6 linked regions of the Homo sapiens genome follow. The protein of the gene in region 4 purifies or fractionates together with the protein of the main gene of each other region. This does not show direct contact. Each region holds a gene or a part of one and is shown on either strand. Other genes may lie near its edges. The genes, in order: ITM2B, BRIP1, MOCOS, CRTAC1, NOCT and VPS13A.

Region 1 (5,102 bases), on a different chromosome or scaffold from region 4:
CCAACATTTCAAGTTACTCTGCTTTTAGTGACTGTGTGTGATGGGCTCAGCAAACATATCATGGAGAGATGTTTAAACACAGCTTTAAAATAGAACTACCACTCTGGCTGAAGGTCACAGATAAAAAGTACAAGCTTAGCGCAAGTTGTAAACAATTTTGTAATGCACATCGGGAGAGGCAAAAAAAAAAAAAAATCAGAGACACAAAATAATTTTTCCACTTACTTGAAGTGCAAAATATTTGTACAAGTATGCTCCTCCTAGAATAACACCTGCAAGCATAAATGCTAGTCCAAAGCACATGCACCAACACCAGGCTCTTCTTTGGCCAACTGGTACCACATCATCTGGGTCCTAAAATATGAAAAAGACAGTTAAATATCTTATCTCCAGACAGAATAACAGAAGGCTCAGGACTAGAAAAACCTTAATGATTATCATTTTAATAAATGAAGACACAAAGACCAAAGGAGTTGTGTCTCTCATCAAAATCAACCCAGGAATGATTAAGTGGTAGCTCCAGGGCTCATCTTAATGGTTCTTGGACTGGGACATTGGTCTCTAGGAGAGTTGTCTACTTCTAATCTCAACACCCTACCTGCTAACCCTGCCTCAAGCAATGATACACTCCATAATTTTTACTTTCCATGCACAACTTTTGGTGATATATTCTATAATTTAATAATTTAGAAGAGGTTATGCTACAACTTAGTCACATAATATGATGATGAGCCTTGTACATTATAAATCCAGGGCATCTCTCTATCTGATCATTTATGAAATTATGTGTTAGGCCTGCTACAGGTGGTTTATATTTCATACCAGGTATAAAACTATTCTAAACCATCCACAAGAAAAAATTACAGGAAAATAAGGAAAAGAACAAACAATGATACTAAAATTATTTAAACAATTAGAATTTCAAAAAATAGGACAAAATTATATACATAGAAATACATAATCCTATTATGCCACTGCTCTACCCTAAACCATGGTCTGATAAAATTCTTCACTTTCTTTTAAAGATAGAAGCAGTAGAAAAAAATGAGAACATATTCAATGATAAAAATTTACTGATAAATTCAAGAAACAAAACTAGCACAGAATTTTATAAAATTTTCATTTCTATCCACTTAAGAAAACAATTTAGCATTAGAACATTATTTGGGGTCATGACATTCATAATTCCTAGATATTCCCTCCCTGTGCCCTTCTAACCTGATCCCTCTAATCTGTCACTTTAGAATTACAGCAAATTTCTGATTTGTACCCAAGTTCATGTGCAAAGAGCTAAGAAAACAAAGATACTTAAATAAGTAGTCACTCAATAAATAGTAAAGACTGCAAAAATTCATAGTATACATGAACAGCCTCTTTGAAGTACATGACTCTGTCCTTTACTTGGAAAACCCACTATGGAGTAGGCTTAAGGCAGAAAGCAGACTTCACCTAAACCTATATAATAGGATATAAAATTAGAAAGAAAAACTATGAATGATGCACAAAAACAGGATCGGTCATTGGAACAGCACTACACAACCTTTTTTGGCACCAGGGACCAGTTTTGTGGAAGACAATTTTTCCACAGACAGACTGAGGGGTGTTGGGATATGGTTTCGGGGTGAAACCGTTCCACCTCAGAAGATCACCAGGCATTAGATTCTCATAAGGAGCGCACAACCTAGATCCCTAACATGCACAGTTCACAATAGGGTTTGCGCTCCTAAGAGAATCTAATGCCCCCGCTGATCTGAGAGGAGGCGGAGCTCAGGCAGCAATGCTCACTGTGCAGCCAAGTTCCTAGCCAAGACCAGTTCCGGTACTGGTCTGTGGCCTGGCGGTTGGGGACCCCGGTATTAGAACATAGATTTGGTTGAAGCAAGAATTCAGTTACGAATGAAACCTAAGATTATATGTTTTTAATTCTAAAATGAGGAACTTTAACATGATACAACTGAAAAAGGTCTAATCCCAGATGTTGAAGCAACCAAGAACAATGTGATACGATACAGTGTGTTCCTAGGTTGAGATTTCAAACATAGAATTTAACACTGAACAACAAACAATGTGTATTCTAAGAATCAGTGCATTGCTATGAGAATGTCATGGTTTCTGTAGCACTTGTCAATATACTATGTGTGAAAGACAATGAGCGTATTGCAAGGAAGAAAAGTATGTAATGAGAATAAGTCTGAAGAATTTAGCAAGCCATGTAAGATATCCCAGCTGTGAAAAGAAAGCTACAAGAATTCCATGGAGTCATAAGGTATTATGAAACTTTAATGACGAAGTATACATCTTTTGCTTGAGCCCTTGTCTGACATAAATATCTAAGGAGGTAAGAAATCATTCCTAACATAATTAATTTTAGAGTGGAAGGAGAGTGGGGGGGATGAAAATGACAGATGGAAATAGTTATTTCCAACATTTGGTATCAGCTGCTGGGACAGCCAAATGTGCGCACACACCCACCCCATTTGGCAGGCTTTCTCTTCCAATAGTACATAAATGAATAGCCAAACAGCACAGGCAGACATCTGTAAAAGAATACGCAGCCCCAACTGGCAAATTGATGACAAGTTTCAAGGCATTGTAATATATCATTTTTAACTGTTCAACAATCATTTTGAGAATAAATTATAAATGTCTACTATGTGCCAAGAGCTGTGCTAGGCACTGGAAATGTATGCTCTGCCAAGAAAGAGACCTGTTAGATCAGTCCGGAAAACAGATAAATATACAAAAAGAAAATAAATATGATACAAACTCTAATAGGAAAATGCACAGAGAGCACATAAGAGGGGATGAGTTTCAGGAAGACTTCCCAAGGGAGAAAATACTTTAGTGGAATGTTAAAGGACAAATACTCATTACCTCAGCAGAAGATAGAGTTAAAGGAAATTTTATATATGGCAATGATTTTTCAAAATTTATGGAGCTAAAATGCATGACATTTCCAAGAGCCACATGTGCTTTGGCTGGAGTGCCCAATATGGTGGAGATGAGTATGAGAAATGATGGACAAGAAGCTGGTGCAGGTCACAAAAGACCTTTGTAAACCATGCTAGAGTTTGACTTCTCATGTTCATTCAAAAATCACTTCTCAGCACTATTGAATATTTTTTTAAAATTCAATTTCTTGAGGAATTTCACTTACAAATACTTCACTTATCCACAGGTCAATTTATTCAGCACCTCAACAACGTGAAACGTGGCTTAAGAATCAGGAAATAAACAAGAGTCTTTGGTCAGCCAAATTATAGACCCCAAACCTATGCACCACCATCATGTACTTCATAGAAGAGCTGTTTAATCTTCAAAGTCTATCTAATCTTTGTTCTCTAAATTCCTAATTATCACTTTTCTTTCATGAGAATAATTCACATAAAGATCTTATCTCTCTCTACTAGGCTATAAGATCTTTTAAGTATCCATTCATATTCATTTTGCATTACTGGTAGCTCCAAGCCAAGCTTAGGCTTGGCATTAGCTGGCACTCATATATTTGATGAGTGAATAAAACTTAGATCTTTTTTTTTTTTTTGAGATGGAGTCTCGCTCTGTTGCCCAGGCTGGAGTGCAGTGGCGCGATCTCAGCTCACTGAAAGCTCCACCTCCTGGGTTCACACCATTCTTCTGCCTCTGTCTCCCGAGTAGCTGAGACTACAGGCGCCCGCCACCACACCCGGCTAATTTTTTGTATTTTTAGTAGAGACAGGGTTTCACCGTGTAGCCAGGATGGTCTCAATCTCCTGACCTCGTGATTCACCCGCCTCGGCCTCCCAAAGTGCTCGGATTACAGGCTTGAGCCACCGTACCCGGCCAACTTAGATCTATTTTTTTAAAAAGCCTGGTTATTTAATTTTTTATGATTCATAAAAGTTATACCAGCAGCCAGCGTGATAATAAGGGAAGGGAGAGATGCAACATAATTCATAACGTAAAACAAACTGTGGCTATTTAGCAAGAGCAGTAGCCTAGTTCAGCATTTATTAAGTAAGGCTTGCTATTTGCAATATACTGTGCTAGATCCTGTGGGAAATCAAATGTGATTAAGACATGGCTCCTACTTTGAGCGATTTATAGTCAAGAATTAACATCACGTATGATAGATAAATGATGTTCCATAATACAATCCGAGTCATGGAGAAGGGATTAAAGTATGCTCAAGATTTAAAAGTTTTTAATCTAAGAGATTTATTAAAAGTGTTTTTAGAGTGATTAAATTTTAACACTTCAAAGAGTAAGCTTTACTTAAAGAAAAAGCCACGTGAGATTTAAGAAGAAAAACCCCATGACTATCTCAAAATATACAGAAAATGTATTTGACAAAATTCAACTTCCATTAAAAAAAAATCTTTGCAAACTAGCAAAGGGTGAAATTCTTTAACATCAGTAAGGCTAATAATCAAAAGCCTATAGAAAGCCTCATACTTAATGGTGAAACTTTAATACTTCACCATACCCTTTTAATTGAGGAATACAGGAATGCCCACTAAAATTGACTGTTTCCACTGAACACTGTACTAGAGATCCTACAGCAAGTACACAAACAATAAAAAGATTAGGTATTAGAAAAAAGAAAAAACTGTTATTATTTGTAAATAATCTGTCTATGTAGAAAATCTAAGAAAGTCAAATTATTTAAACTAATTAGAGGGTGGCAAGATTTTTAAAGATCAATAATCAAAAATCAACTGAGTCAAAAATTTAGTCATGAATATTTACAGCATCATTATTTATATACTAGCCCCAAACTAGAAACAACCCAAATATCCATCAACTGATGAATAAATTGTGGTATATTCATACCATGAAATAGATAGCAATAAAAAGGAACAAAATAACACACACCAGCGGGACTGAATCTCAAAAACATGCTAAGTGAAAGAAGTTTAGCACAAAAGATTACTCACTATATGATCACATCTTTATCAAATTCTAGAAAAGGCAAAACCATAATGACAAAAGCAGCTTACTGGCTGGGGAAGGGGAGACTGACTACAAACAGGCATGAGGAAACTAATTACTTGGGTGATGGAAATCTTTCGTATCTTGATTGTTGGGGTGGATATATGACTTTATACAATTACCATAAATTC
Region 2 (5,102 bases), on a different chromosome or scaffold from region 4:
TGACTGGTTCAGGTTCAGGAACAGACATGTGATCCACGGTAGGCCAACCAGAGTAATTTGGAGGGACTAATATGTGGCCATGCTCTTTTCTCCAGGTGAGCTAGCTGCTTATGGTTATCTTTGTTCCATAAGCAAGAGTGAGAACTTGCCTGAGAATAAAGCCATCACAATAAAGAGAATCAAGTATTTTTTCTTAAGCATTTTTTAGGGTAGGTTTGTGTCACTTGCAATAGAAAGAGTACTGACTAATACAAGGAACTGTCACAAAGCAATTGTCAATGAGTTATTTTGAGGAAGTAAGAATACACAGACAGCTGAAAAGTTGAGAAAAAACCATGGAAGAGTAGGAAATATATTGGGGTTTAAAAGATAAGTAGGATTTGGATTTGGACAGACAAAGAGTGGACAGGGCATTCCAAAGAGGTGTCATCAAAAGCAAAGATAGAGTAAAGAACAAGGTATCCTCAAGGGAGTATGAGGTAATTTTTGAAGGATTCAAATTGGGCAGATCCAGGTCAGACTATTGAGCATCTTGAGTGTAAGCTTAAGAAATATGAACTTTATCTCATGAGCAAAGGAAGCAATAGATTTTTAGGCAGATAAAAGGATGTAATAAAAGCAATATTTGGAAAACTGACCTGGCATTGATATGCACAGTGTCTCAGAAGGAAGAGATCTAGTTAAGAGATAACCAAATAAGAGGTAGGATAGAAGGGGTAGTAAACATAATGCCTATTAATTTGGATCTTAAAGAAATAGAAAGCTGAGATGAATTGTGCAGTCAGATCTGAAGACAGGAATAACAATTGACTATGCCAAATTATTCACTTTTTGTCTTATGCTGTTAACAATTGCATGTCTCTAAAAAGAACCAGGCAAACAAACACAAATGCCATTATCTGAAGTTCACTTCTCAAAGCTCACAAGGCATAATTTTATTCCCCCACATAAGTTCTTCAAAACATAGTTTTTTCAGAGAAATGTTTCTAAATAATTCTTTTTGAATATTCATAAATGCAAAGAGAAATCCTGCTGTAATCCCACTTCAGTCACTATGTTCCTTAAAACTGCTTGTTATTTTGGAAATTAAAATGAGTGGGTTGATTTTAACCCATGTTAGGATATGTTTTCAGTACTCTAATATGTTTACACAAATTTATTTACATAAATTAAAGCAAAAAAAATTAAAACATCTAAAAGCTTTTACATTCAACATTTACATCTCCATGAGTAGGAAGAAGGTTCTCATTTTTACACATATACTCACACTTTCCCTTATTTGTGCATCTAGAAGATAGTTGTAGGGACAAAATATGATGTCAGCATCTTGTATTAGTTCTCGGGCTGTGTAATATGGACAGGCCTTTAGTTTCTTCCCCAGGCTGACAAGTTCTTCTATATCCCAGGCTTTGCACATCCCTTGGAAAGTCTGTAATGTGTGCTGATCACTAATTTTATGAACTCCATGATAAAAATAGCAGGATTTTCCCTAGAAACAAATATGCATAACTGAAATGTGAACCAATATTAGCATAGAAGGAATAAAATAAGCTTATCTCAGAATTTGAGGAACATCATTAAAGCCACAAGGCTAAGATTTTACTGGCTACGCCACCACACCTGGCTAATTTTTTGTCTTTTTTGAGACAATACCATAGCTACAATCACAACGAAGTCTGGTTGACTCAGACTTAGATAGAAGTCCAAATCGGAAGAGCTCCAAATACCCTAAATTAACTTGAAAAAAATTTCTTTTAAATATGTTTGTTATGCCTTTTTTTTTCTGATTAAACTGATGTTAGGCATGAAATACTTCTGAAAGGATTCACAAAACAATGGTATCACTGGTTGCTTCCAAGGATGAGAATTAAGTGACTGGGCACAGGAGTGAGAGATTTTTCTCTGTAGACCCTTTTGTACCTTTTCAACTTTGAGCCATGTGATAGTATTTCTTATTCAAATATAAATAAGAAGGAAGGAAGGTAAGTAGGTAGGTTGGAATGTCCTAAGGGGAAAAAAAGAAAGTAAGAGTATTCACTACAAAATATTCAGGAGTACCAAAAAAAGCCTAAATTATCCATAATTCTATTACACAAAGAATGCACTAGAAACATTTTGGTGTATTTCATTTCATATTTCTTCTATACATGTGTATATAAGGATATCTCTACAATGTGACCCAATATTAAAATAACAAGAACAAGCAAGGCACGATGACAGGTGTGAGCACTTTGGGAGGCTTAGGCAAAAGGACTGTTTTAGGTGAGGAGTTTGATACCAGCCTGGGCAATGTAGCAAAACCCTGTCTCTACAAAAAATAAAAAATTTTCTAGGATTGGTGGCGTACATCAATGGTCCTAGCTACTCAGGAAGCTGAGGCAGGAGGATCACTTCAGCCCAGGAGTTCGAGGATGCAGTGAGCCATGATCAAGCCACTGCACTCCGGCCTGGATGACAAAACAAAGCCCTATCTCTAAATAGTAATAAAAACAAGAACAAAGCAAATGTTCCCCAGGCATTGAGGATTATTAACAATTCAGCCACAATAAACAAAAATTTTTATAAAGCATATTCCCTTTGTTTTCTTCTGTCTAGCGTATTAAAAATCATACAAGGAAAATCTTGACATCACTAAGCATCTTTTCGTTGCTGCTCATATATGTACATTGAATTAATGTGCCATAGCTGATGAACCAGTTTTCTTATTACTGGGCTTATAGACTGTTACCAATTTCTGCTTTAGACATAAGGCTGCAGTGAGCATTCTTATGCTGGTTTCTAAATATTTTCTTAGTCTATATTTTTAGAAATGGCATTATGGGATCAGACGCTACAAGGTATTTTTAAGTTTCTTGAAAACATATAGTGAAATTATCCTCCAGAAAGTATATATTGCTTTGCATTACCCTTTTCCCACATCCTTATCAACACTGGTGTTATCTTTTGTTATCTCTATCTTAAAAGTAAAAAATAGAATCTTGTTTTGATTTGTATTTTTTATAGTTTCTAGCAAAGTTTAACATAGTGTTGTATGAATAGTCTAACAAGGTTCAATAGTAATTTGTGTTTCTTCTTTTATGTTATCTACTAATGCCCTTTGCCATTCTATTACCTTTTTTTTTTTCAGAGATGGGAGTCTCACTCTGTCACCTGGGGTGCAGTGGCACGATCCAATCTTGGTTCACTGCAACCTCCGCCTCCCAGGTTCAAGCAATTCTTGTGCCTCAGCCACCAAGTAGCTGGAACCACAAGTGCATCACCACATATGGCTCCTTTTTTGTAGAGACAGGGTTTTGTCATGTTGCTCAGGCTGGTCTTGAACTCCTGAACTCAAGCGATCCGCCTGCCTCGGCCTCCCAAAGTGCTGGGGATTACAGGCATGAGCCACTGCACTCCACCCCATTCTATCACTGGAAATAAAAAAATTTCATTACAGGCTGGGCACAGTGGCTCATGCCTATAATCCCAACATTTTGAGAGGCCAAGGCCGGAGGACTGCATGAGCCTAGGAGTTCAAGACCAGCTGGGCAGCACAGGGAGACTCAATCTCTACAAAAAAACAAAAAAAATTAAACCGCAGTGAGCAGTGACCACGCCACTGCACTCCAGCCTGGGCAACAGAGTGAGATCCTGTCTCAAAAAAAAATACTCATTATGTGCATTAATAAAAAAATAAAATGTTTGATAAAACCCAGCCCTAACAAGTGTCTCATATACTATTAAAAATGTACAAAATTAGAAAAGTATATATATTTTTAGTAGAAGTATAAAATTCTAGTAGTAGAAGTACATAGGCAATTTGTCAAAAAACTACCAAAATTTAAAATTTTACCATTAATGTGAATAGATGTACCCTGTACTGTTAAATAGCCAAAAAATTGAAAATTAACCAAATGTCTACCCATAAGGGACATGTTAAATAAATTATGGTAAATTAATACAAAAACTTTAGCCCTTAAAAATGATTTAGATTTGTCTATGTGTTGATTAGGCTCTCTATGTTAAGTGAGAAAAACATGTTGAATAACGTGTATAGAATGATTAAATTCATGTAAATTGCTTTTTTAAAGAATATGTGCACATACATTATAGCAAATACATTTTTTAAACATTCTGGTAGAATAGATATATAAAATCTTACAGTAGTTACCTTAAAGGATTAAGGAGATGGAGGATCTAGAAAAAGCCTCTCTTTTCATTTTCTAACCACATACATGTACTACTTCTCTTTTTCAATTGTCATTGGAACTAAGTGGTAGAATAATGGGCCACTTTTATTTTAATTAATTCTACTATTTATTTTAAAACGATTTTGAAATAAAAATATTTATTTTTCCTAGTTTGCTATCCTTAACAAAAAACAACCATACATAAAATATATAAATTATATCAGGGATAAAAGACTTTGAGGCAGCTATATACATATGTGTGTGTGTGTGTGTGTGTGTGTGTGTGTGTGTGTATGTGTGTGTACATACACATACATATATACATATGGGTTCAAGCACTTCTCATGCCTCAGCCTCCCAAGTAGCTGGGATTACAAGCACGCATCACCATGCCCAGCTAATTTTTTGTATTTTTAGTAGAGACAGGTTTTGCCATGTTGGCCAGGCCAGTCTTGAACTCCTGACCTCAAGTGCCCACCTCAGCCTCCCAGAGTGCTGGCATTACAGGCATGAGCATCATGCCCGGCCAATGTATTTTTTACAAATACATAATAATTTCCCCATATATATATATTCAAAATATTTTTGTCTAATAATTATTAAAATTATAAAATATAAAAATAATTAGTCTAACAAGGTTCAGCAATAATTTGAATTTCTTCTTTTAGGTTATCTACTAATGTCCTTTGCCATTGTATTACTGGAAATAAAAGATTTCATTACAGGCTGAGCGCACTGGCTCATGCTTATAATCCTAACACTTTGAGAAGCCAAGGCAGGATGAAATGTCTCTCTCTTTCTGTGTGTGTGTGTGTGTGTGTGTGTGTGTGTGTGTGTGTGTGTGTGTAAAATTAAATTGTATTTGTATACGTCTGTATAATAAATTAAATTGTATATATATACACACACATATATATGCATATATATAATCTT
Region 3 (5,102 bases), on a different chromosome or scaffold from region 4:
TTATGCCTGTCATTCTTTTCTCATTTGATTCTGTTACATGGTAAATTATCACACTTGGAGTCAAGAGGTTTTACATGAGCATTCCTGTTTTAGAAGCCCCCCAACTATGGACAAGTCCTAAATAAAAGAGGCATCAAATAGCCTCCTAACATTGATCCCTACCATTCTGATACTTCACCCATGTTAGCTCTAAAAGGACAATATTATCATTTCTTTTTTTTTTTTTTTTGGAGATGGAGTCTTGCTCTGTCACCAGGGCTAGAGTGCAGTGGGTATGATCTTGACTCATTGCAACGTCTGCCTCCTGGGCTCAAGCAATTCTCCTGCCTCAATCTCTTGAGCAGCTGAGATTACAAGCACCCACCACCACACTCAGCTAATTTTTGTGTTTTTAGTAGAGACGGAGTTTCACCATGTTGGGCAGGCTGGTCTCGAACTCCTGACCTCATGATCCACCCACCTTGGCCTCCCAAAGTGCTGGGATTACAGGTGTGAGCCACCACACCCGACCCAATATTATCATTTCTACTTTACAGAAAAAACATGAGGTGCAGAGAACAAGTCACATGTCCCCTCGCTGGTGTGCAGTGGAGCGGGGACTCATTCCCCAGTGGTCCAGCCTGAGGCTTACACAGCTAACACTGACTCTATCGTCAAGGCCATGGCCCTACGTGCAGGACCCTTGCGTCTGTGTGGGGTCTGTTGGGGATCTAAAGCCCTTCCCGTCTATGCCCCAGGCCTTCTCCGGACCCTGGAGGTGATTAGTTGCCTACCCAACCCTGTGTCCCCACTGTTGACCCAGCAGAACCCTGGATCAGCCACCATTTTCAGCCTTGACACACTCGACCTTACAGGTCCCAGCTGTTACCATTTGAAAGAGTCCTGAGCATAACCCACACCACCTGCCCTTGCAGCCTGGGGATGATGCATATGCCAACAACCCAGGCAGAGGCCTCTGGCATTTGAGGGCAAGTGACAACCTGCACCCAGACTCCCTCTGTAACTCACTCACAGTGGGGCTCATAGAGGTTGCCGCTAACACTGCCTCACAAGTCTGGGGGCCTCTGCTTTAACTGATTCCTCCTGCTAACTAGGTGCCAGGCTGAGCTGATCCTAGCTCCTGGAGAACCAGCTATGCTGTCAATGTGTGGGCAGACTTTTTCCAAATGGTGCCACCTTTTAAAGCCACTGGGTGCCACCTTTTAAGGCCACTGTTTCAACTGTTGCAACCTCTTGTCAGTGCTGAGGGCAGAGGCCTGGTAGCTCACCCTCCTTACCCCATGAGGGCCTTTTATCTCTCCTGTGTGCAGTTCTTATCTGCAGGCCCCAGTCCTCTCACAGCTCTGGAGAAGCCTCTCAAATGGGGGTAGAGTTCACTGAACACCTGTGTCACCTCCAGTCAACTTCTGCCTCCCAGATCTGAGCCCTGCCATCAGCCTGTCCCTGCCAGCAACCTGAATTCTGCTGACCCTCAAAGCCAGACCCACCTCTTGCATAATCCTCCAGGAGAAACAGGCCAGACCCCACCTTGCTGAACTCCTCTGACCCCTCCCCTGTGGCAAGGTTACCTCTGAGCTACCGACTGCCTCGGGATGTAGAAGTCTTCTCCTGCTAGGTACGCAGAGGCTGTCCCTCCTCCAAAGTAGGTCTTCCTCAGTAGAGGAGCCGCACGATTATGGACCAGCAGAGCGCCCAGGCCTGTAGGAAACCCGAAGATCTTATAGAAGGAGATGGGGACAAAGTCGGCCTGGTGAGCTGACAGGTCCAAAGGCGAGGTGCTCACGTAGGAGGCTGCATCCAGCAGCACAAACCACTTCCCAGGCGTGCTCACAGGGTGCAACCGCCCAGACTTGACCTCTTCTATCCAGGACAGGGGGTATCTGACTCCAGAAAAGTTACTCTGAGCTGGGTAGCAGAAGAGATGCGGCAGCTGGCAGTCTGGGTTGCTGGCTGAAGCACTACGTTCCTCTGCAGACCACAGGTCCTCTGGCCTGACCGGGGTGGATATGACATTTATAGCCATGGTCACGTTCCGCATACCCACTACGGAGGTGTGGCTGTCGGTGAGGTAACAGAAGCGACTCCCACTGCTCTCTGGGCCCTGGGACACCCATGGAAAGGCCTCTGCCACCAGTTTGAGAGCAGCCGTGCTCCCGGCAGTGAAGATCACAGTGTAGTCTTCTGCGGTGGTGTGGAAGTGCGCCAGGATTCTGGAAGAAGCACAGCATCCCCGCAACCCGCGGATCTCAGCCCCAGCACTGAATGTTTGCAGGCTGTTTTATTTCTATTAACTATGACATCTCTACCTTAATGGATAGATAGGTTTGCCACAGCTGCGAAATTAGGGCGAGGGCAATGGAAGCCGTGGGAACGAGTTCCAGTTGGCAAAATCCTCTTACCTCCCAAATATCACTGGATATCTCCAATTGGATATGTATGACAAAAAATCCACAATAAACTTAATCAGAGTTGATACTACTTTCTCTCCTTGGTGCTTTCTGCTCAGCTCTAACATAACAAGGTTTAAGTAGTAATCAACCTGTTTACATTGCTTTTAGTTTTGGCAACTCTAATAGCAAAACAGTATCACTTTCACATTTGAACTAACTTGAAATTGTGTGATTGGAAATTGTGTTAATAATTTTAAGGACAACCTGGAAATTATTTGCCAGATACTGTTATGTTTAGAAAGTATAGAGAGCTGTTTAACATACAAATACTAGTAAAAAAGGGGGGAAAAGGGAAAAAAGACAGGAAGAAAACAAGTTGCCTAATAAAACTTCTTATGAAAAGGAAAACCAGAGAAATAGTACTTTTCTTCTTTCTGAAAACAAGACCTAGGATCCTGGGTCACTTCCTGTCACTTTGGCACTGCAGAGTCTCTGGAGCCACACAGAACAGCTGTGTGCACCTCAGAGCCACCTACCTGTGTGTCTCATCTGCCCCACACTGCATCTACTCACCGCTGCCTTTCTGAGCTCTGACTCTGATGTTTCTCAACATACATGCATTGCCTTTTAGCCAACTGTGATCCTCCTGAAACCAACTCAGAACTTTTGTGGGATGCAGGCAAGTCCTAGGAAGGAAGTCTGTCTGCCTAGGTATGCCCAGTCAGGCAGGTGTCCCTGATGCTTACCTGTAGCGCACCTGCTCCACAGTGTCATGGGTGAGCTTGCTGCTGATGTTCTGGCTGTGAGGATTACCTGGCAGGTTACAAAGACAAGGCCACCAAGTCACTACTTAGGGTCGCTTCTTTTGTGTTCCTTCTGAATCCACTCCCTCAGTTTCTCAAAAAGCTCAACATAAAACTACCATATCACCTAACAATTCCACTCCTAGATTTCTATCCCTCAAAAATGAAAACTTATGTCCATACAGACTTGCATGGGAATGTTCGTAGCTTTATTCAGAAAGTCAAATTCTGGAAACAATATAAATGTCCATCAATGGGTGAACAGATAAACAAAATATGCTACATCCATAAAATAAAAAGTGATTTGGTTTTTTGTTCTGTCTTGCTCCATCACCCAGGATGGAGGGCAGTGGCATGATCATAGGTCACTGCAGCCTCAAACTCCTGGGCTCAAGCGATCCTCCCATCTCAGCCTCCTAACTGTGACTACAGGTGTGCACAACTACACCTGGCTAACTTTTTAAAATTACTTTTTGTAGAGATGAGGTCTCACTGTGCTGCCCAGGCTGGTCTTGAACTCTTAGGTTCAAGCAATCTTCCTGCCTCAGCCTCCCCAAGTGCTAGGATTGCAGGCATGAGCCACTGTGCCCAGCCAGGGAAGTTATTTGCCAATAAAAAGGAACAAACTACTGGCTATGCCATGAAAGAACTTCAAAAGCATGATAAATGAAATACTCCAGACACAAGAATATACATAATGCATGAATCAATTTACATTAAATGTCCAGCAAAAGAATTGTAGAGATACAGAAAGTAGTAGATTAGCAATTGCCTGGGGGTAAGGTCAGCAACAAGGATTAGCTGTAATGGGCATGAAGGATCTTTTCAGGGGAATGAAAACATCTAACTGATTTATAGTGATGATTGCATCACTAGGTCAATCACTAAAAAATCATCATTGGACACCTGAAATAGATTTTTTTTAAGAGAGACACAATCTTACTCTATCACCCAGGCTGGAGTACAGTGGCTGATCATAGCTCACTATAACCTTGAATTCCTGGGCTCAAGGGCTCCTCCTGCCTCAGCCTCCTGAATAGCTAGCACAACAGGCATGTGCCACCACACCTGGCTGATTTTTTAAAATTTTTGTTTTTTGTAAAGATAGGCTCTTGCTATGTTGCCCAGGGTTGTCTTGAACTCCTGGGCTCAAGCAATCCTCCTACCTTGACCTACCAAAGCACTGGGATTATAGGCCTGAGACACTGTACCCAGCTGGTAAATTTTATGATATAGTTAAAAAAAAAAATCTCTCCTCACTAGTAAAACCAAATGTGATCGGGAAGAGTATTTTAGAGCTGGAAGTCAGCTCAGAAGCAGGCCAGTGCAAGAGTCTGTTCTACATGTTCCAGACAGGTGGCTGTGGCTCTGTTTAACTCCAGAGAATGCAGTATACAGCCTCAGGAGGATGCCCTTTTCTCCAAGCATGAAGCAGAGCCATGAACGCCACTTAATCTAAGTCCCCACGTATTGCCCTGCAGATCCCACCACCACTGCTGATGCCTTTCCTGCAGAAATAATTGATCCCGGCCTCCAAATATGTGAAGGGGGCCACTGTGCTGCCCTTAGCCATCCACTTTCAAGGAGGAAGGCCCTCCTCCCAATGTCACTCTTCCTCTTAACTTCTAGTTTTGCTCCCTTCCTGGTGTCCTCACCAAATGTGTCCCAGAGTATCATGACCTCCCTCAAACTTAACCCCCAGACAGGCTTTGGTAGGGCCTGACCTATAAGACCAGGCACCAGCATTTCTCAGGAGCTACATGTGCTCATTAACGCAGAATTTGCCCTTTAGTTTTAGACTTTTTTTTTCCTCCAAAATACACTGAAAGATTGCACTGGATTTCTGGCCACTGCAGCTACCATATGTTCTGTTTCCACATTGCTAGTAACCTGTGGGACCTGGTAATTA
Region 4 (5,102 bases):
CACAGGGCGGGTGTGTGTGAAACCACAGGGTTTACAGAAGCTCGAGGTGCCACTGAGTGGCAGGATTATGCACTGCACTCGGGGAATCAAAGGTGGAGACAGAAAGAACTATGGCTGTTGTGACACGTCCCCCACGGCTCCCCGGTTGGCAGCCACTGCCACCCGCAGGGACTTTTCTGTGGCTTCCAGAGGTGTGGGGCAAAGGTGGAGTCTGGTGACTTTCTCCCTAGGGCCAGCCCCTGGGCTGTCGAGCCTGGGAAACTCCACATCCCTCTCCACACCTCTAGAAGGACTCACAATGAGGGGGGCCCAGACAGGAGGCATCACCACCTGGTTTGGGCTTTACCATTCACCCAGGGATAAGGCAAGGCAAACACCACTCCACATCAGATCTGAATTTGAGCTCTGGCTTCATGACACTGACACATGAAGACTCTTGGAGCCTCAGATTCCCCAGTTGTTAAATAGGGAGACTAATATCTCACAGAGTTGTTTAGACCCGAGGCGTTCAACCTTGGTGGCAATGGATGTCAACTGGAAGCATGAAAAATCACCAATGCCTGATCCTATCCTCAGAGATTCTGATTTAATTGTTTTGGGGGACAGCTTGGGCATCAGGATTTTAAAGAGTTTCCCTGGTGATTTTAATGTGAAGGTAAGGCTGAGAATCCCTGGTTTTGACAGTACCTATAGCCTATAAGCCTTTAATACACCTCTGAAAATGCCTGAGACCTGAATAAGAAGTTTATGGTTCCACAGAAGCAGCCAGACACAAAAATGCATATGCACCATGTGATTCCCCTTATATGAAACTGAAAGACAGGCCAAACTCGCCTTTGATTGGGAGTCAGGATCAAGATTACCCTGGGTCGGGGGTAGCGAATGGATGGGGACCTGGGGGGCTTCTGGGAGCTCAGGATGTTCTGTTTCTTGATCAGAGTGCCAGTTACACGGGGTGCTCACTTCATGAGAATTCACTGAGCTGTATACTTAAGAGCTGTGTATTTGTCTGTACTGGTGATATATTTCAATAAAATTCACCAGAAAAGCCTGTTGGCTACAAAATAGGAAAAGAAAGGACACACTTGAAATTAACGTTTTGTTAAATATCTGGAAATGTAACACATATGCCAAACAGACAACTGCAACTCTATGTTACGTGTGTGTGTGTGTGTGTGTGTGAAAATGTAATGTCTGCTCTGCTGTGGGTGGGCCCTCTAAAAGGGAAGGTCCCTGATGCCTAAGAAAATCTGAAAACAGCCCAGGTTCACACCAGGAGTTCTTAACCTCGACCCGACTGCATTCAGGTGCATATTATGTGCCGTTATCTGAGGAGAGCATCTACAGCTTTCAGCAGATTCTCAAAGGGGTATGCAACCCCCTAAAAAGGTTAAGAACAATTGGTTTTGAGGAGTCAGTAAGAAACTGGCCATGAATGTGCTTGGCATGAAAGAGATGCTTGGTAATGTCGGTTTCTTTCCTTCCTTTCAGAGCCCAGCCTTCGGAGGTTTCCGCATGAGCCTTCTCGGGCGACTTCTAGGAGGATTTATTCCCCTGGCAGTGCCAAGGGCAGCCTGCACCAAGCTCACAACTCTTCCTCCAAGAGGATGTTCAAAGGGCCTGTCATTTCAGCATCTGCTGGACAGCAGAACTTCGCATGCAGGATCCTGGAGCTGCGTCGGGTTTTGAATCAGGGACAATGGAGGAAGTGGGAAACTGTGAAGAGAGTCAGAGGGCTGTGCCAGCTGCCCCCTTTCCCACCCCCAGCAATTCACTTAACTTTCCTGAGTCTCACCTTTGTCATTATGAGAATGTGTATATTTATAAATAATCATCTGTTTCTCCAATGTAAGATATTGTTATTGCAGAAGTGATACTAGGACCTCGTTATACGATGGCCTCATGATGTAGATTTATAGCAGGCTTCAGATTCTGGCATAGAATAAACAGATATTTATCCAAGGGTTCACTGATTCCCGAATAAATGCCAGGAACATTCATGTACATTATTATTCCATTTAATTCTCGAACACTGGGGTGTTGAAATCTTATTTTACAGATGAGGAAACTGACGTTCTAGGTGGTTAGGTAGCTTGACAAGGGCTAGTAAGTGTCAGAGCAAAGACTTGAACCTAAGTCTCTGACTCCAGATCCCACTCTCACTCTGCCACAAGAGTGAGACGTGGGAGAAGAGAGAGTGTTCTACCTGGATTGACTCATAAAGATAGAAGACAGATTCCAGACCAGAGAGAAACTCGTGGGCAAATGCATCCCCAGAAAAATTAGCTTTGCAGGGGCATGAAGGTACTAGTTATTTTGGAGTAATTCAAGTTATCGATTTCTGTAATGGAAAAGTGATTGGGAACCAGCTATCACCTGAGAACAGTGCTGAGTGAGGCCCCAAGAAGGGGGCAATGTTACACACAAGCTTACACACAGCTTACAAGACCTCAGAGATTGCGAGGGTCCTTTTCCCTGCTGCCCACAATTAATCAGTACACTTCTCAAGGGCAGGGAGCCTGTCTTACTCACTCCCCACCCCCACCCCCACCTCCCCCTATCCTGAGTGCTTGTTTCAGGGCCTGGCCCTGGCCAGGTGAATGGAAGATGCTGCCCATCTCAGGTTGGCAGGAAGAGGCAGGCCTATACAGATGTGTCATCTGCAGACCCCTAGGGCAAGGTGCCACTGAGAAGCAGCTCAGTACCATGCAGATAGGCAGTGGTCACTGAAGGATACAATTCACCTGCAAGTGGTCACCTTATAACTCAATTAAAGGATGGATGCAGTGACCCCAGGCTACCCCCTGAGCTGGGCAGCAGCTCTCAGTGATGTTGCCCTAGCTGTGACATTGTGGCTCTGCTCATGACCTCTACCTATCCTGGGAGAGGAGGGGAGGAAGCGTGTGTCCCACCCCAGTCGGCCCTGCCTGACACTCCCCAAACACCATTTTGAGGTGGGGAAAATCCTTCTGGTGCTGAATTCTTTACCTGAGAGATCTGGACCTCAGGCCCTAGAGAGTGAATTACTGTGAGTGAATCACTGGCTGGATGGCTGGCTGGCTGGATAAGTGGATGGATACAGAGAAGATGGGTATAGAGAGATGACTGATAGATCAGAGATGAGCGAGAGGCCTGCCTGGCTTGAGATGGATGCTCGCAGACCCTGGAGAGGCAGGTGAATGGATGGGTACCGATCGCCCCTGGGCTCCCCAGTGCAGATCTAAATATAGGGCTGGAGCTCTTCAAAGGGAAGATGCCGTGCTATCCCAGTCCCCAGATGAACTCCGCATTTGTAACTCTGAGTGATGGATGTGTCTTGTTGGGAAGAATCCTTATAGGTCTAATATTGCCCCAGCTAATGGCTTATGGATTGTTTTAAAGTCAGGCATTGCTGGAAGTGAAACCAGGAGGTTAAACGTCCTGGCACAGATTTTATGACAATATCTGCATTTCATCAGTCAGGCACTGCAGCAAGTACCTTATAGGCTCGAGGAAGCCTCACAACAACTCTATGAGGATTTTATCACTGCCTCTATTTTGTGGATGAAGAAACTGAGGCTCAGAGATGAAACAACTTCTTAAGGCCACTTCCAAATGCCTGGGTGGAGGGTCTGGATTTCAAGTCCATTTGATCCCAGAGTTTCAGTGTGAAGGGAAAATTTTAAGGACAGTTGAAAGGAAGGGAGAGGGGAGGGCCATAGGATTTGTGCACAGCTCTAAGAACGAACATGGCATTTTGGCACATGTGAGACACCTTCTGCAGTGGGAGGAGGCACTGAGACTTTCCAATGACTGGGTGACACGAGGGCAGCCCCAGGCTTCCTTCTCCCTCTTTCTTCTGTGTCAGCCTTCGAGGGCTCTAAACCTTGAGTCTGGGGATCTGAACTGCAGAGAGGGTGTATGTTTGGCTCACTTTCCTTCCTTTGGCCTAAACTTGTCCTTCTGCCATGGTCTCCATAAGCAGTTGGGGAAAGAGGATGTGCTTTTTTCCTGTTCCAGGAGCTCTACAGCCAGGTCTGGGGTGGAGGGAGGGAAGTTAGCCCTTAGATTTGTGGGGAGGGTGCATTAAATGACTCTAGGGGATGAGATCCTTCCTGGCTGCTCTGGGGCTGGCCATGAAGAAGGAGAACCAGCTAGCTTTAGGGGAATTATTCTGGCCCCAGACTGCTTTCCTGCTGGCAGGCAGGCTGAGGGCATGAGGTTCTGGGCGGGACGTTCTGGGAACGGGTGATACAGATTCTCCATCTGCCGCACCCTTCTCCTGACCCTGCCTCCCTCCTCACAGCTGAACAGGCTCCTCTCTGCACTCGGGACCCCCATTCAGATCTGTATTTAATCCCAGCTGAGTTCTAAGGACCAAGTATGGTTCTTCTGTTACTTGATGGGCACGTATCCTGACTCAGTTTCCATGTCAGCAAAGTGGGAAGGATAAGCCCTGCCTCTCTTATTCCTGATCTTGTTCATACACTTGGGCTTCTGGAATACCTGGAGCTTTCTGGAGAAGGGTGCTGGGAGCAGCCTGGAGCTGAGCTCTTTTGAGGAGCAGCCGGCAACCCGGCAGGAAAAAGGACCAGACGGGGGTGCAGATGCCTTGGGAAAGTTGCAGCTCCTTTTTGGGCCTTGGTTTCCACGTCTGAAAAGGAGGGAAGAGGACTAGATGACTTCTCAGGTGTTCCTGGATTTAAAGCTCTAGGATTCTGTGATTGTTGAGGGCCAAATTCCCAGGCCAGTTCACTAGCTCCTGGTGACCTCTGCTCTGTATGGCCCAGTCCATGCCATGCCCGCCTAGCTCAGTTCACTTTGTTTTATGACTATTCTTTCTGGGAATGGCACTGCATGAGAATTCAGCAGAACATAGCACAGCCCAGGCCCCAGGAAGGTTGGCTCTGCACCTTATGGCCATTTGCCATCTTTTTCTGGTGAATCTGTCAGTTCTCCAGAGGTGGCCCCGTCCTGCCCATCTCTCCCACCACAGGTGTCCTGGGTGGCAGCAGGGTGTACCGGGAAGCACAGGAGCTTTGGCACTGAACGGGCCCGGGGCTCCATCCTGAACGTGGCTACTTAATAATAGTATCTCTAATTTGTTGGGGGCTTTCTATGTG
Region 5 (5,798 bases), on a different chromosome or scaffold from region 4:
TCCCAGCACTTTGGAAGGCCAAAGCAGGTGGATCACCAGAGCTGGGGAGTTTGAGACGAGCCCGGGCAACACGTTGAAATCCTGTCTCTACTAAATACAAAAATTAGCCCGGCACAGTGGCGTGTGCCTGTAGTCACAGCTGCTCAGGAGGCTGAGACAGGAGAACTGCTTGAGCCTGGGAGGTGGAGGTTGCAGTGAGCAGAGGTGGCGCCACTACACTCCATCCTGGGCAACAGTGCGAGAGAACCTTGTCTCAAAAAAAATAAAAATAAAAATTAAAATTAAAAAGCACTTAGTGCTGGGTCTGAGGCTCTTTGGAAAACAATGTCCATTTTTGCAAAGTGCCTCTTCTCTCACCCTTCCTCATCTGTGTGTGTCTCATGCCTTTCTGCATTTACTCCTGCTTTTTCCAAACAAAACGCTTTATAGTAATCTCTTCCAATCCTAACCATGCTTCAAGAGCCAGCTGAAATGCCACCCATTTCTAGAAGCCCAAAAGGGACTTCCTGCTTTCCTGCACCCTTGTGCCATTTCCAAGTCAAGAGAATAAAAGGTGTTTCATTTCATTAAACAGCCATTTCATTGTGCAAATCTCATCTCTTACTGGGCAGTAAACTCCTTAGGGACTGACTAAAGCTCATGTTTTTAACTCCCATAATAAAGCACCTACATTGTGTGAGACATTCTGTAAAGATCTGGAATGAGTGAACAAGCAATGAATGAATCAATGCAGGCATGTTTCTTCCAACAAGCTGCTGAAGCTAAAAATGCATGAACAGGAAAATTGTCTAGACTTTATAGTAACTGCCTACAAAAGTTTAAGTACCATAAAGTCCTTCAATTTCCTTATCTGTAAAACTAGGGGGTTTCAGGGGATTTCTTAAAAGAAGTTCATTAAACACTTTCTTGGGTCAAAAGCCCAACATTCCAATCTGACCTGATATTATTACTCAGATAACAGTAATTACTCAGATAACACAGCCATCTATGTTTTACACAAGCTAACAGTATTCCCATGAGGAGGTACCTACTAACCCTGCCTCTGAGACTTTGAGGGAATTTAAGATATAAGCTGGTACAGAAGACATCACCTGGTTTTCTTTTACTTTTCCTACCTCAAACCTCTAACAATGTTGTTCTTAAAATTTCCAGCAAGAAAAAAGTTATCAGGCAATATACTCATTCTGGCAGTTATTTCACAATGTACCACATTCCTACGAAATTGGGGGTGGGGGTGGGGAATCTAACTGTCAAGTTCACTCTAAGGAACAATATAGTTCAGAATCTCCAGCAACCAATTCAACATCCTAATTTTAAAATGACTAAGTTGGGCATGGTGGCTTCCACCTGCAAATCTCAACTGCTCCAGAGTCTGAGGATAACTCGAGGCCAGGAGTTTGATACTAGATTGGGAAATACCTAAATATCTGCCAACAATGCGAATAGTTTAAAGTCTTGGCTTCAATCACATTCCAGATGACCATTTTTAAAATATATACATTTTTTAAAATTTTTATTAATTTTGTTTTGAGACGGAGTTTTACTCTTGTCACCCAGGCTGGAGTGCAATGGTGCGATCTCGGCTCACTGCAACACTCCGCCTCCCAGGTTCAAGTGATTCTCCTGCCTCAGCCTCCAGAGTAGCTGGGATTACAGGCGAGTGCCACCACGCCCAAGCCCATTGGCCAGGATGGTCACGAACTCCTGACCTCGGGTGATCTACCCGCCTCCGCCTCCCACAGTGCTGGATTACAGGCGTGAGCCACCGCGCCCGGCCTATTTTTTTAAATTTTATAGGCCGGGGGGGCGGTGGCTCACGCCTGTAATCCCAGCACTTTGGGAGGCCAAAGCGGGAGGTTCACCTGAGCTAGGGAGTTCGAGGCCAGCCTGACCAACATGGAGAAACCCCATCTCTACTAAAAATACAAAAATCAGCCTGGCGCGGTGGCGCATGCCTGTAATCCCAGCTTCTCGGGAGGTTGAGGCAGGAGAATCGCTTGAACCCGGGAGGCAGAGGTTGCGGTGAGCCGAGATCGCGCCATTGCACTCCAGCCTGGGAAATAAGAGCAAAACTCCGTCTCAAAAAAAAAAAAAAAAAAAGTTATGTATTGCCTAGTTTTGAAAGAAAAAATTTATCAATTTTTAAAGTATAATTAATTTGTATGTAATTTGTGGCCATGGTAATGTGTGCCCAGGCAGAAACAGAGGTAGCAAAAAAGGAAAACTCAGGGTAGTTATTATGATGTATGAAAACAGCTCTTGGTGAAACTAAGGCCTCACTTTTACAAGATCTTAGATACACAGGACAAAAAATGATGTTAACTATAAAGAGTGGAAGCCTCCAAAAAAAAAAAATCCAAAGAAACGTAAAATGGCCGAGCGCGGTGGCTCACGCCTGTGATCCCAGCACTCTGGGAGGCTGAGGCGGGTGGATCACGAGGTCAGGAGTTCAAGACCAGCCTGGCCAAAATGGTGAAACCCCCGTCTCTACTAAATATACAAAAGTTAGCTAGGCGTGGTGACTGGCGCCTGTAATCCCAGCTACTCGGGAGGCTGAGGCAGGAGAATCGCTTGAACCCGGGAGCGGGAGGTTGCGGTAAGCCGATATCGTGCCACTGGACTCCAGCCTGGGTGACACAGTGAGACTCCATCTCAAAAAAAAAAAAAAAAAAAAAAAAAAAAAACAACGTAAAACGAATCAATGTGTTATTATCACGACTTAAAAAAAAAACTTAATATCTAGACCATGAAAGCTATATAAGCAAATAAGCATCATTTAGATTTTTTTTTCCATAAAAATTTCCGTTAAGTCGTGCAATAAAAAATGTAACCAACATAGTAACTCGCGGCCTCGGAAGGGGGAAATTTAACGGTCAAGAACAAGAAATTCTGAAAGCATGGCCTCTAAGGGTCAAGCGGGAACCTGAATACAGTCTCCCAGTTCTTACTAGCTTTGATGCAAGCCCCAGGCAAGTCGGGGAACAGGGAAAGAGGAAAAAGGGAACGCAGAAGGTTGCTCCGGTAAAGGACCCACTTTCAGGCCAGACTCCACGACCGGCAGCCCCGGGCTTCTCATTCATTCCGCGCGGTCTCCAGGTGGCGGCCGCGCGTTGGCGGCCGTGGCGTTCTCCGCCCGGAACTGGGGTGCACTCACCTGTTCGGGAACACGACCTCGCGGCGCCCGAGGCCGCCGAGGCCGCCGCCAGCAGCCGGGGGGATGCGGGCCTGGGAACAGCAGCCGGCGGGGACAACGGGCGGCGCAGCCCTGGGGCGGGCAGGCGGCGCAGGCCGGGCGCGTCCCTCTGCAGCAGGGCCGAGCAGAGCCGCCGCGGACTATGAAACATGCCGGGCGCCGCCGCCACCACGGCCCCTCGCGCGCCCGAGGAGCGGAGCCCGGCTGGGGCCGAGGGCACCGAGTCGAGCCGACTGTCCGGGCAGTGTGGGCGGATGCTCCCAGGCTCCTTCTCGCGCGGCGCAGGTTCTGGGGAAATCCCGGGCAGCAGAGCCGGAGAGGGAGGTGCAACACCGCTGCGTCGGCACCGTCTGCTGTGAGACCTGGCGAGACCTGCAGGGCGCCCGGCGAGCGCTGCGCGCTGACAAAGCGGGCGCTACCAAGCGGGAGCTGGAGGGGAATCCGCGGGACCCGGCCACTGCGCGGCCACGCCAGGCTCCCTCGACCCGGCGTAATCCTGTTTTAAAAGGAAGCGGGGCTTAGGCTGATTTATAGATAGAATCCGCAGGCGGTCTAAAATAAGAGGTATCCGTTGGAGCTGTTCTGAAGAAAAAAGCGTCCCCTTCCGCTGGCCAGCATGGAAGCGCCCACAGGCTGGGAATCCCGAGACAGTTCCAGGGCTGTGGCCCAGGGGACACGTGTCTGTCAGAGTGGCAGACGGCCTACGTGTGTGCCTGCGCGGGTCTGTGTGGATACAGCAAAAGGCGTCCGCCTCCGACCCCCTCGGCAGTGTGTGATGCGTTAAACGATATTAAGCACAATAAAGCACCGCCTGTGGGCGAGGCGACGATGATTAAAACAGCGTTCTTTTCCTCAAAAGTGTTATACTTAGGCAAAGGGAGCAGAAGGTGGCAAGGGAAGTCAGACCAGAAAGCTCTACAAGGTAGAATGAGATTATTGCCACAAGATGCCAAAGATTGGCTATAGAGATGACAACAGGCCCGGGCTCTCTAGAAGGTTCATTAGAAGGATTGGCATTTGAGTTGGCCTATGACGTGGAGGTCTAGAATTTACCCACGTGAAACTTTGGAGGGGGTGGTGGTGAGTTATAAATGAAAAAAGTAAATAAGGGTGTATTTGGGGAAACAACTCTTAGTCATGTAAGATGGAAGCTAAGGAGTAAGAGGACAGATGCGTGGATAGGTTGTAGTGTGGAAGGAAGGGGATTATAGTAGGCTTAATTCGGTGGATAGCTGCGAGCCGTTGACGTTTTGTAAGCTGAGCAAAGACATGGTCAGGGCTGTGCTTTAATTGGAAATCACATGTCTCTGGTTCATGAAAAGGCAGAAAGGAAATCAGCTGAGATAACAGATACTGTAGACCCGCACCAGGTTACTGTTACTGGAAAAGAAAGGATGGAAGAAACATCTCAGACAGGCTGGGCAGGAAATGATGACTAATCAGGAATAGAAATGGGATGAGGGGGAGGGAAAACCCAAGACTGGATTTTTCTCTGAATGATTCATGAGTTAGAAATGTATTCTATTGGTTTTCCCATGATTTTGCTGATTCCCCTGTGTTGTGGAATTGCAAGCTTTTCATCACAAGAATATTCTAAATATTTTTCAGACCTAGGTTACATATCTAACACCTGTGGATAGAGGGTGTGGACAGATCAGCTGGCACAAGTTGATTACAACTTCTGGCAGACAAGCTCCTTGGAAGTCATTAAAGCCTCAGTTTCAGTTTCCTTATCTATAAAACATAGAATCATACCTTAGTCATTAGGTGAAATAAAAAATGATAATAAGCTACTCTGGGCACACTGTCTATCGAGTAGTCCTGCTCCACAAGGAGCAGTACTTGTAAAAAGAATTTTTTTAAAAAGGTGATAATAAAATTAGCCTATGAAAAGTGTTTTGCAAATATAGCAAAATGTTGATTTTGAATCTAGGTAGTGGGTATATATGGGTATAGGGACCATGGGAAAAATGTTCCCTTTGCCCTCTGAAGTTTGCTGAAAAATCAACTCACAAAAGGCAGATTAATGGGAGAAAAGGCATATGCATTTATTAACATGTACATGGGGAGAATCACAGAGTGATTACACACCCCCAACGGGGTTCAGAAGCTTGTCTACCATCCTGGCCAACAGACTTGGGGAGAGGGGAGCAGAGGCATTCTGTTGAGGAGATGACTAGGGAAAGTGAATGGATCAGGGCACAGGGATGAACTTGCACATTATCTTGTGAAAGGGTCTGTTCAGGTGGTTACATTTTTGGTCTTACAAGGAGGGGAAGAAAAAACAATTGTTCCTTTTGGTGGGTTCGGATTGTAGCCAGATAAAGGAACTTCAACTTCATCCTGTGCTTTGGGAGAGATGGTGCTGGGCAGTGAGGTCAGAGAGACCTTGAGGCTTCCATTCAGCCGGTCAAAGCCCCATATTTTGGGCTATCAGTTTCTGAGTCCCGACACAAGTGTTCACTTACAATTATTTTTCCCCCATATATTTGGAGATTTTCATAATAAAATGTTGGGGAAAAGTGCTTTGAAAAATGAAAAAATAACTGTTCAAATATAAACTGTCACTATTTAAAGAGATTCAAAGAGCATGCTATCCTGAAAG
Region 6 (5,102 bases), on a different chromosome or scaffold from region 4:
ACACTAAAAGAATCACTTGGCGAAACAGAAATAGTAAGTCCAAGGGAATTTAAAATCATAAATGGTGCTAGATCCTTTACGAAGTCAGCTGAAGATCCAGTGGCAGCTTCTGTAAATGCCTAATAAGAAAGAGTTATGCTAAATAAAATGAAATGTGTAAAATTAAATGACAAGGAGAACAGTAAAGGACAAATGACAACTAAGTTATTAAACTTCTTATTCAACAGACAGATCAATCAGACAAGTATCTCAATATTTAAAGTTTCAAATTTCTTTTCTTACCTTGACTAAATTGTTTAACATTACAAGACCACATTTGGATAATGTAATGTTTAATTGGTCTTTTGAATGGAAACTGATGACAGTTTTATATTCTGGCACTTTGTAGTTTTCTTCTTCAGGATCTGACTCAACAATGGCCATTTTTGCTTTCTTTTTCATCTAAAATGATAAATCATAGAAATATAAGGAAAAATTCTAAGAACACAACATAACTAGACAAATCCCAATACCAACATTAGAAAGGTCAGTACATTTTATCTTTTCTAATTTCAGTAAGTTCTATTGCCTTATTGAAATTACTTGGACATCAGCCAACTAAGGTCATAAAGGACAGAAGTATTAGAGAAAATAAATCATGTCATCATCAGTGATAGTAAAATGGCAGACACAATTTAGAAGGAAAAATAAAAACCTAAAATTACTATGTGTACCCGGGATCTGAATATAAAAGCACATACTTCAAAGCAACATAAAAACTCAGACAGAAAAAAGTAACTTAATGTATTGGTCATGCTAATAATAAAGAACAGAAACCTAGAGACTTACAAAGGCAGACAATAGTAGCAGAACAGTGTTATAAACCTAGAGCTCATAAGAATCAATACCCTTTACCATTTTTTAGGAGTCACAGATCTGCTGACCATGTGTATTCTAACCTAAAAACCACCAAGGAATTCCTTTTCATATCCTTCATCTAAAATATCTGGAAAATAAAATTAAGTGATCTAATATGAAAAGAGCTCAACATGCTAAGCTAGTCACCTCTGTTGTTACTTTAACTGGCTTTAAGCCACTGAAAATCTGTCTGCAGGTTGACCAAGTCATTATTAGGTAGGAAACACGTGAGTAATTCTGCAGTCTCTTGCTTCAGAAGCAAAATTTCATCCACCTAAAGGCCCCGATTCTCATGATTATATAAATCCACAATATATTTCAAACAAATAATATACATTCCTGCACACATGCAAACATCCAAAGGATGAAGGAAACTCAGGATAGACAACAACCTACAAGATGATGACACAGGCATTATAGCATAGTGGTTTAGAGTGGATTTAACGCCTCTGCAGCTGGATTTGCATCCCATCTTTTCCACTTTGTAGCTATTATTACTTCAAGAAGTCTCTTAACCTCCCTGGTCTCAGTCCCTTCACATGTTAAATAAAAACTGTATCTACCTCCAAGAGTTGTTGTAAGGATTAAAATATTTAGAACAATGTCTAAACTGTGTTCTAAATTATGTTCTAAATTGTTCTAAATTATGTAACAAGTAACATAATACTTGTTACATAATTGTATTAGAAGCATAGGCAACATTGGCCTTAGATTTGAAAATTATATTCAGAGGGCAAACAAGGAAGCATGTGGGCAAGGCTCATGATGAGACAACCTGAACCTTGTTGTGATTAAAATAAAGTGTCGAGTGTGGTATAAACATTCTCAATTTTGGAAAATTTTTTCAGTCTTCAAATATACGTTGATGAGGGAATGTTAATAAAGGGGGAGGCTATACATGTGCAGAAGTAGGTGGTATACGGGAAATCTCTGTTCCTTCTTCTCAATTTTGCTGTGAACCTAAATCTGTTCTTAAAAAAATAAAGTCTTTTAAAATACATATATATATATATACACACATAGACATATATAGATATACCTTGATACCAAGATTCCATGGTCTAAAATCCTCAGTCTGATCAATTTCTAAGGGTTCAAGCAAAGGCTCCCATACACCAAACATTTCATTATAATAATGCACCTACAGAGAGAATTTTTTAAATTAAAAATGATCTTCCATCCTGTTTCCCACCATGTTTTTTAGCCCTGTTATTTCTTCTATATAAAAACCAGTCTACATGCCATTCAGTAGCTTCCTATAAGCACTCCCTCAGCATTTTCCTCACCTGGCTAACTTCATAGTACATATTCGCTCTTCACAATTTAGTCCAGATAAAACCCCTTTTTAAGCATCTTTCCTTGATTCTACATTACATAAAAGTATAAGGCATATATTTCTAATTCTTCATATTTCTATTAGAAGAGATTATTATCCACATATTCAGAAATTCTGTCTATATCCTTAAAAAAAAAAGGGTATTCAACTTTAACTCTTTTCTTTTCTTTTTTTTTTTTTTGAGTCTGGGTCTCACTTTGAACCCCAGGCTGGAGTGCAGTGGTAAGATCTCAGCTCACCACAGCCTCGACTTCCCAGGTATTCTCAAGTGATCGTCCACCTCAGTCTCTCGAATAACTAAGACTACAGGTGTGAGCCACCACCACTGGCTAATTTTTTGTATTTTTAGTAGAGACAAGGTTTCACCATGTTGCCCAGGCTGATCTTGAACTCCTGGGCTCAAGCGATCCTTCTGCTTTGGCCTCCCAACGTGCTGGGATTACAGGTGAGCCACTGGGCCTGGCCTCAATTTAACTCTTTAAAAAAAATATTCTGAATCTAATCAACAACTGTCGAATAATATATTATCTTTAAGTTGATAAAATCAGTTGAAATATAAACTTAATGTGGACATGTACTTTAAAAGTAAAAGGAATGTATACATAAAAGCAATTATTCAAGGGCAAAATTTGAAAACTTTTTTCTAAAAGTTTTTGACCCAATATCATATTTACAATAAGCTTAAATAGCTACACAAGATTCCATAATATTCCATATGTATCATTATCTGTCATAATATTCCATACGTATCATTATCTGTTATAAAACTGGAAAAATATGCTTACTTCTAGCTCAAGCTGACAGTGCAGATTTATTAGGGAACTCCAGTTTTTGCCTTCCCCTGAAAAACGTGACTTTGCCAGAAGCATAGGTACTGTTCTATGACCAATTCCAGCCTCAAGAACTATAAAAATAGAATCAATGTTCATTTTTATCATCTCGCCTTTGGGTACCAATTCAGTTGTGGGAGCTATTTTTTCAGTTTCATTTGATTCTTCAAGAAACCACATTTTTAAAGTCTTTGTATCCTTCTTTTCCCATAAATGTGCAGTAGAAGAAGCCGTTTCTTCTGGGATGGTTTCCTTAGTTGTATACAGTGCTGAAGTTATGGTAATCATAGTATTTATAATAACTGGTGAAACCTAAATGGAAAAAAATTAATAAGTCTATACAAAACACTTTCAAACATACTACGTCAAGAAATATTAAATATATATTATGAGAAATTAAATACTGAATTAACATTACTACCACAAAATAGAAGATACAATTTATTGTTTATAAAATTTTTTAAATTACCATAATTCTTGTTATGTGTTTACATGAATCTTGCAGATATTTACATGAATCTTGCAGATATTATTCCATGAATTACATGATATTATTAATATACATGAATTGCAGATATTATTAAACTGATGAAGTATAAAGTAATTTCAATAATATTTATTAGGGATATTAGATGTTAACCACACAAATGTAAATAATAAAATATAGAATAACATTCATAAAATGTGTATTAAATAATATTACTTTGTAAATATCTCATAAAAACGTATTTTCAAAAACACACCTATTTTGTTTGCATAACAATTAAAAGACTTGCTATAATAACTTTCTAGGCTTTACTACTTTTTTTAAGTGCACTAAATATTCAAATGATTATATTTTAATTTACCTTTAGTGTCAGGGATTTTACTGACATATCGATCACTTGTGGATCTGTACCTTTCTGAGTAGTTTGATAAAACAAGTCACAGGGCTGCAAAACCTATGAGAGAAAAATCAATACCACTAAATTAATGTTTAAATATAAAAATATTTCTATTTAAAGACTTTCCTAGTAATAGGTATGTCAAATAAACAAGTTAATAAAAACAACTATTTAAAAAGTGACTTAATAATACACTCCTTAATTATCCCATATAAAGGACATCTAGAACCTAATATCTGTTCTATTCTTCCACAGTAATAGAAGTTTTATCTGAGCACAAGGTAGCTCAGAAAAAAATACCACAGTCTCCAACCTTTACTGAAGTAAAGTGTGGTCATACAGCTATATTCAAGCCAAAAAAGATGTGAATAGAAGAAATATATATTTAAAACTTCTAAGTCAAAAACTAAGAGAGAATTGGTATACCCTCCATTTTCTATTCTCTCTCTTTGCTTAGTGGAGGGCCAACTGTCTTGCAAATTTGGGCAACAGTTTATCTTATATCCTAATATATATGTATTCATTGTATCAAAATTACATCTTATATTTCTATGGTGACAATGTTTAGAACATTTATGCTTCTATAGATGCATACCAAGCATCAGGAAAAAAATACAAAGAAACAAACAAAAACTTATGCTTCTATTACTCCTTCAGAAGCTCAAATATTTTTGTAAGTATTCGCTGGAAGTCAGCCAGTTAACTTGAAAAGATGTCTGTAAAGGAATGAATTTTAAGTAGAGTTATGAAGAGGAGGAAGGCCAAGAGGTTACTAGAGAGTAAAATATCAATGTGAAGTATGTCAAAGCAAATGGCTGAAGGTTCAAATGAAGTTACATGGAGACAAGGAAAAACTCATTATTTGAGCAAAAACATCCAAACGGGAGAAAAAAGTTGAAACAATAAAATTGAAACAACACAGCAAACAACTGGCAGAAAGTCTTAAAAGTCCAAAGAGCAATTTGGAATTGACATGGTTAGAAAGTCAAAGTAGATCTTAACTGAAAACTGTCAAGATGAACCCAACTTCTTAGTGACAATATTCCCACAAATACTAACAATAATGAGCAGCATCTGGAAGAATGAAAGAGTTTCAAAGCTGGTAAATAATATTCTAAATTAAGCTCTCTAAGCAGAGAGAAAGACATTTTACAG

What was found.
Region 1: the proteins of CRTAC1 (region 4) and ITM2B purify together in Homo sapiens (co-immunoprecipitation; one large-scale study listed by IntAct). This does not show direct contact.
Region 2: the proteins of CRTAC1 (region 4) and BRIP1 purify together in Homo sapiens (affinity purification with mass spectrometry; 2 studies listed by BioGRID and IntAct, with this or other methods). This does not show direct contact.
Region 3: the proteins of CRTAC1 (region 4) and MOCOS purify together in Homo sapiens (affinity purification with mass spectrometry; 2 studies listed by BioGRID and IntAct, with this or other methods). This does not show direct contact.
Region 5: the proteins of CRTAC1 (region 4) and NOCT purify together in Homo sapiens (affinity purification with mass spectrometry; one large-scale study listed by BioGRID and IntAct). This does not show direct contact.
Region 6: the proteins of CRTAC1 (region 4) and VPS13A purify together in Homo sapiens (affinity purification with mass spectrometry; 2 studies listed by BioGRID and IntAct, with this or other methods). This does not show direct contact.

Annotation. Positions count from the first base shown.
Region 1 is NC_000013.11:48,249,060-48,254,161, reverse strand, and holds part of ITM2B (integral membrane protein 2B), read right to left. Parts: intron 355-5,102; coding exon 226-354; intron 1-225. UniProt on the Homo sapiens protein: Plays a regulatory role in the processing of the amyloid-beta A4 precursor protein (APP) and acts as an inhibitor of the amyloid-beta peptide aggregation and fibrils deposition. Plays a role in the induction of neurite outgrowth.
Region 2 is NC_000017.11:61,799,986-61,805,087, forward strand, and holds part of BRIP1 (Fanconi anemia group J protein), read right to left. Parts: intron 1,490-5,102; coding exon 1,268-1,489; intron 1-1,267. UniProt on the Homo sapiens protein: DNA-dependent ATPase and 5'-3' DNA helicase required for the maintenance of chromosomal stability. Acts late in the Fanconi anemia pathway, after FANCD2 ubiquitination.
Region 3 is NC_000018.10:36,196,791-36,201,892, reverse strand, and holds part of MOCOS (molybdenum cofactor sulfurase), read right to left. Parts: intron 3,204-5,102; coding exon 3,137-3,203; intron 2,211-3,136; coding exon 1,569-2,210; intron 1-1,568. UniProt on the Homo sapiens protein: Sulfurates the molybdenum cofactor. Sulfation of molybdenum is essential for xanthine dehydrogenase (XDH) and aldehyde oxidase (ADO) enzymes in which molybdenum cofactor is liganded by 1 oxygen and 1 sulfur atom in active form.
Region 4 is NC_000010.11:97,869,575-97,874,676, forward strand, and holds part of CRTAC1 (cartilage acidic protein 1 isoform A precursor), read right to left. Parts: intron 2,005-5,102; exon of another isoform or gene 1-2,004.
Region 5 is NC_000004.12:139,013,528-139,019,325, reverse strand, and holds the start of NOCT (nocturnin), read right to left. Parts: upstream 3,546-5,798; 5' UTR 3,345-3,545; coding exon 3,155-3,344; intron 1-3,154. UniProt on the Homo sapiens protein: Phosphatase which catalyzes the conversion of NADP(+) to NAD(+) and of NADPH to NADH. Shows a small preference for NADPH over NADP(+). Represses translation and promotes degradation of target mRNA molecules.
Region 6 is NC_000009.12:77,316,508-77,321,609, reverse strand, and holds part of VPS13A (intermembrane lipid transfer protein VPS13A), read right to left. Parts: intron 4,005-5,102; coding exon 3,912-4,004; intron 3,376-3,911; coding exon 3,019-3,375; intron 2,039-3,018; coding exon 1,937-2,038; intron 442-1,936; coding exon 283-441; intron 120-282; coding exon 1-119. UniProt on the Homo sapiens protein: Mediates the transfer of lipids between membranes at organelle contact sites. Binds phospholipids. Required for the formation or stabilization of ER-mitochondria contact sites which enable transfer of lipids between the ER and mitochondria.